Homo sapiens: one gene and its partner. The protein of the gene in region 2 purifies or fractionates together with the protein of the main gene of each other region. This does not show direct contact. Each region holds a gene or a part of one and is shown on either strand. Other genes may lie near its edges.

Evidence for each region. The genes of interacting proteins can lie anywhere in the genome.
Region 1: the proteins of SRGAP1 (region 2) and ARHGEF19 purify together in Homo sapiens (affinity purification with mass spectrometry; one large-scale study listed by BioGRID and IntAct). This does not show direct contact.

What each region holds. Positions count from the first base shown.
Region 1 is NC_000001.11:16,197,354-16,200,003, forward strand, and holds the end of ARHGEF19 (rho guanine nucleotide exchange factor 19), read right to left. Parts: intron 1,902-2,650; coding exon 1,797-1,901; intron 1,392-1,796; coding exon 1,234-1,391; 3' UTR 501-1,233; downstream 1-500. UniProt on the Homo sapiens protein: Acts as a guanine nucleotide exchange factor (GEF) for RhoA GTPase.
Region 2 is NC_000012.12:63,847,700-63,851,199, reverse strand, and holds part of SRGAP1 (SLIT-ROBO Rho GTPase-activating protein 1), read right to left. Parts: intron 1-3,500. UniProt on the Homo sapiens protein: GTPase-activating protein for RhoA and Cdc42 small GTPases. Together with CDC42 seems to be involved in the pathway mediating the repulsive signaling of Robo and Slit proteins in neuronal migration.

The sequences.
Region 1 (2,650 bases), on a different chromosome or scaffold from region 2:
AGCCAAGATTGCACCACTGCACTCCAGCTTGGGCTGAAAAATGGCCCCCAAAAGATATCCATGCCCTAGTCCTTGGAACCCGTGAATGTTACCTCATATGACAAAAAAGTGGGGGGCGGGGGCGCAGAGGGTTTTTGCAGATGTGATTTAAATTAAGGATTATGAGATGGGAAGATTATCTGGGTGGGCCTGAAATGCAATCACTTGTTTATCAGAGGGAGGCAGAGGGAAATTTGGTATAGACACACAGAGAAGGCAGTGTGACCACGGAGGCAGAGATCAGAGTGATACGGCTGCAAGTCAAGGAACACGGCAGCCACCAGCAGCGAGAAGAGGTGAGGAACCACTCTCCCCTCGAGCCCCGGGAGGGGGTACAGCCCCTGGGTGTGGGCCCAGTGCTGCTGATTTTGGACTCGGCCTCCAGAACTGTGAGAGAAGAAAATATTGTTTTAAGTCACTCAGTTTGAAGTAATTTTGTTATAGAAGCCACAGGAAACAAATAAAGAACTAATCAAATCTCTTTAATGTTTAAGCCTATTTGTATCTGATATTTTGTTACTTGCAGCCAAAAGCAGCCTAGCTGATACACAATCGTCCCCCTGCCCCCTGGTCACCCTTACAGCTCAGAGATGAACTCTAGAGAAATGCAAAGCCCCAGTTGGGAGCCAGCCGGAGACTCTCCTGGTCTTTAGCTGGGAAAATAGGACTGTGGGGGTGGGGGCAGCATCAGATGGATCACAGACTCCAAGCAAAGGCATGATAGGAGTTTATTTACAGACAAGACACAGCAACCAGCACCCACTCAGGCTCTGACCAGGGGAGGTGGTAGACAAGACCCCAGATATATATAAATATACATATAGGTCCCAGCACCATCAGCACCAGAACGTTCCCCAGCCAGGTCCCTGCCAGAAGGACCAAGAGTCAGGCAGGATTGAGGACATAGAAAGGAGAGGGCCCCAGTCTTTGCCAGGTATCAGTGATCACCTGTTATGGTCCCCATGTCAGAGGAAGAAACTATCCTTGGCCTTGAAGTGTGGACACTGAGGAGCATGAGGACGGAGAGACCCTCTGGAGGCGCCCCCATTCCTGTGTCCAGCCTGTGCCCTCAATGCCAAGGCCACAGAAGCGAAGTGCCAGCAGGAGCAGCTTGGGGAATGGAGACACTGCAGGCCCCTCCAGGACCATCCAGGAGCCAGGCATGGAGGTGGGGTCCTAGGCCATGGCTGCCCATCACACAGGAGCCTCCCCCAGTTTGCTGGTGGCACTTGTGACTCGCTTATTCTCCCGGAGGTTTCGGAGGCGGGCGCTGAGGCTGCTGATCTCTTCCACATAGGCCTGGGGCACCCACCCCTTCTCACCATCTGCCAGGCGGACCCCTTCCAGCCAGCCTAGGGACACATAGGCCAAGAACAACAGCATCAAAGGGGTACCAGGGCCAGGCCTGGAAGGGAACACCACAGCCCTGATGCAAGCTTTGTCTGCACCCTTGGGGCCAAGGTGACATCATCTCAGCATCTCTCAGCTCCAGGAAGGACCCTGTCTTGAGCTGTCTTGCAGATGAACTTCTGACCTGTTTTTCCTGATATCCTCTGAAAGGGTATTTCCCACTCTCCCCCATCACTCTCCATCCTATATCTTTACAAGCAGGAAGTTCCTCCTCTCATCTAACCTGATTCCCACATGCTGTGGCAGATCAACACTTGCAGAACCTTTCCCTGTGATATCTTAGTCATCTAGCCACCTCCTGCCCACCCAAGCCCCATCAGGGACACTTTCCCAGGAGGCCCCCTCACCGTCACTGGTCCAGGTCCTCACTGACAGGATGTCAGTCTTCTCCAAGGTCAGCTCATCTGGGTGCAGTGCCTTGTATGTCCTAACACACTGAACCTGGGGGCAATCTGACAGCCCAAGGGAGGCTCAGGGAGTCCCAAGGGCAGGATGGCAGGGGGAGGAGCATGGGTAGGGCAGGGAGGGGCAGTAGGAGGAAGTAAGGGGGTGGGAAGGTGGCCATTGAGGCTTCTATTCCTCTGCCACTGCCATGCCACAGGCCCACGTTCAAGCAGGCATACCCTCTGCCCACCCTGGCCTATCTCCTCTCCTACCCTAAACACAAGTGCAGGATTAATCCAGTCCCTCCCAGCTTCAGTTTCTGCCTCTATACCAAGGGCTGTCCCCTCCCCAGCTCAAGCCAACACCTTGCTTGTGACCTTCAGACCCCAACGTCCAACTGCCCCCAGATACCCCACAGAAAACAGTAACGGCCCTGCAATGTGCCCCTAACATCACTCTGGTGCTCCCTTTGGCCCATCCTTCCCAACTGGGATTCAAGCTGCATCGCTCCCGTTTAAAGCCCTCCAGGGCTTCCCAGTCCTCTTAGAATAAAATCCAAAGTCCTCCCTAGGCCCTACAAGGCCCTTCATGGTCTGGCATCGCCCCCTGCTATCCTCGTCTTCTCCCCTCCACTTTCCCTCCCTACTCTCCCCTCCACTTTCCCTCCCTACTTTCCCCTCCACTTTCCCTCCCTACTCGCTCACAAAGCTCCAGCCACACCAGCCTCCCTGCTGTTCCTCACTCTAAGCTCCCTCCTGCCCCAGGGCCTTTGTGCTGGCTCTTCCTTCTGCCAGATGCTCTTCCCCAGATCTTTTCG
Region 2 (3,500 bases):
ATTACCTTTACATAACTGTCTCTAAACCAAACTTCTTTTTTTCTGAGATGGAGTCTCGCTCTGTGGCCCAGGCTGGAGTGCAGTGGCACAATCTCAGCTCACTGCAACCTCTGCCTTCTGGGTTCAAGTGATTCTTGTGCCTCAGCCTCCAGAGTAGCTGGGATTATAGATACATGCTACCACACCCGGCTAATTTTTGTGTTTTTAGTAGAGACGAGATTTCACCATGTTGCCAAGGCTGGTCTCAAACTCCTGGGCTCAAGCAATCCACCCGCCTCGGCCTCCCAAAGTGCTAGGATTGATTACAGGTATGAGCTACCATGCCCATCCTCTAATCCAAAATTCTGCCTTCAAACTGCTAAAGCATAAATAGACTAATTAGACAAACAATTTATTCCCTTTTCTTTATTTTGTTAGTTGTTTGAATTGAAGTGAAAATAGGTAGCATGAATAAAATTTTTTAAGCTGTCTCTCCTTGGCCGGGCATGGTGGCTCATGCCAATTATCCCAGCACTTTGGGAGGCTGAGGCAGGAGCTCAGGAGTTTGAGACCAGTCTGGGCAACATGGCGAAACCCTATCTTTACAAAAAAAAAAAAAAAAAATAGCCAGGTATGGTGGTGTGTACCTATATTCCCAGCTACTTGGGGTGCTGAGGCAGAAGAATCGCTTGAGCCCAGGAGGTCAAGGCTGCAGTGAGCCTTGTTCACCCACTGCACTGCAGCCTGGGTGACAAAGCAAGATCCTGTCTTGAAGAAAAAAAAAAAAAAATTGGCCAATTTACAAAGACTCTAAAACCTAGAACAGACTTGAAGCTGTCTGGCTCCTAAACTGGTCAACATAGCACAGGAGTAAACAAACCAATATAGATTGTCAGAGCTGAGATTTACTACCCTGTATTATAATCCAGCCCTCATGTGTTTCAGAAGGTCATGCTTTGCTCAAAATTTTCTCCAAAACTATCCCTTAATATATTCTGAAGTTCATGAAACTAACCGGGTTTTCAGGGCACTGTAAAGGCCTTGTTGCAGTAGCGCAATCAGCTTCACCAAAACATCAGGCAAATCATATTTGTACATATTAACCATGTTGTTTTTCTAGACCTTAAAGGCCACCCTGTGAAGCTGCTGCCTGGGTATTGTGGTCTCTTAAAATGGTCCTGGTGAAAAAAACAACTTGGTTAGAGTTAATCAATGTAATTAACTCCTGTTCACAGACGACGGTTTCCTTGCTCTCTTAGTTCCAACAATGACTCCTTCAATGAATGTAAAGTCTCAATAGGTAACTGTTCTATCTCCTATTTAGATATCTACTATGTGAGGAATCTACAAGTGAATTATCGCTACTGAAAAGAAGATAACCTGGGTTCTGGTCCCAGGTACGTCTTAATTGTGCAACTCTGTCATTAAGCCTCCCTGCATCATGTAATGAGTGGGTTGGAGAAAAAATGTTAAAAGTCCCTCCCAGCTATAAAGTTTTAATTCATAACTTAAATTGCTGTCACTTCCTATTCTATGTTGAAGAAAGAATGTAAGATGCAGACACAGGTTCCATATTGCTATGGCATGATGCAGGGCCATACCAAATCAAATTGGCATTTCCTCATGTTCCATCTGCTACTAAAATGTATTATTTGTATGTCAGGCTGCAGAGTGGTCAAAGAACAACAGATTTTCTTGGCACTCCCTGTACATATTCCATGTAGATAAATATGGTGCTATCTCTAGGAAAATACTACAAATAATAACTGTCAATTCTTAGCAACTAGCAACATGCATTATTAAAAACAAACACAGCCTCTCATCTATAAGTTCCACTTCATAAAACATGTCTTTATGAGTCTTTATTGTTCCCATATGTGTAGCTCCACAATATTTTTGCTGCAGAATACAAGAATTACATAGATCACTAAAGTCCACAGATAATTCAAAACCTTCTGCTAGCCAATTATTCAATCCCTTCCACTGCTACGCTATTTGCCAGAGATGCTAACAAATAGCATAGTCAACTGGTTTGGGTTTCATACACTTTTCCAGACATGCTTGCTTTCTAATGGCCTATTCAAACAAGAGATTTATTTCTCTTAATTCTAAGTCTTTGAGAATTTGACCAAGAGGCATGAAATGTTCAATTCATTCTTTAAAACTGTTGCCTGGGGTCCCCTTTTGTCCCCCATTTAAACCTATCCACTGTTTAACCACTTGTATCATTCCTGATTCTTCTGTCTTACAATTCTGTGCTACATTTCTCTGCATGTGGTTTTGATTACTGTTTTTTCTGTATTCTTTATTGTATTCTATTTTAATTCTCCAAAAACTCAATTTATACACTGTCCATGAACTTATGAAAAAAAAGTGAAAGCAAAAATGATTCTCCACAAAACAGAGCAGCCAACTGAAAACTTTAAAAGCTTGAAAATTTTATGAGGCAATTAATATGAACTGATATGACATCTTCAATTAGATTCAAAGACACTTAGGATTACAAAAATTAGTCAGGCATGGTGGTGCACGCTTGTATTTCCAGCTACTCAGGAGGCTGAGGCATGAGAATCACTTGAAACCGGAAGGCAGAGGCTTCAGAGAGCAGAGATCGTGTCACTGCACTCCAGCTTGGGTGACAGAGTGAGACTCTGTCTCAAAAAGAAAAAAAAAAGACACTTAAGATGAAGAGAATTCCAACTCCTTATCTTATAGATAAGAAAACCGAAACCCAGAGAAAGGCTAAGTGACTTGCCCAAAATGATACACACAACTAGATACATCTATGATCTTATACATAAAATTACGAATTATCACCAGGAATGGTTCTTTTCACAGTTAAGAATAGCCCCATGAAGTCTGTTCCCAAAACCTGTGCAGGCAGCCACAGTGGCAAAATTCCATATCTGGGCCGGGTGCAGTGGCTCATGCCTGTAATCCCAGCACTTTGGGAGGTGGAGGCAGAGGCAGGTGGATCACCTGAGGTCAGGAGTTCGAGACCAGCCTGGCCAACATGTCGAAACCCCATCTCTACTAAAAATACAAAAATTAACTGGGCGTGGTGGTGCGTGTATATAATTCCAACTACTCCAGAGGCTGAGGCAGGAGAATCACTTGAACCCAGGAGGTGGAGGTTGCACTGAGCCGAGACCACGCCACTGCACTCTGGCCTGGGCAGCAGACCGATACTCCTTTTATATATATATATATATAAAATAAAAATTAAAGAATAAAAAAATTCCATATCTGAAGTCATTCCTTTAGGTCAAAACATTATCTCAAAAATTCTGAGATAAATAAAGTTGTTATTAGGGAAAATGGGAGAGAGTAACAGGGGAAAATATTCTAGAGTGTTAGGTTCTAAGTTAGAAGGTAGAAAAAAAAATACATATAATCAAAATGACTCTTGAAATCACCCACACACCTAAGTCACCTATAGAGTCCAATATGTATGTTTATTCATTGTGTTTTTCTTGAGACAGAGTCTCACTCTGTCAGCCAGGCTGGAGTGCAGTGGCGCA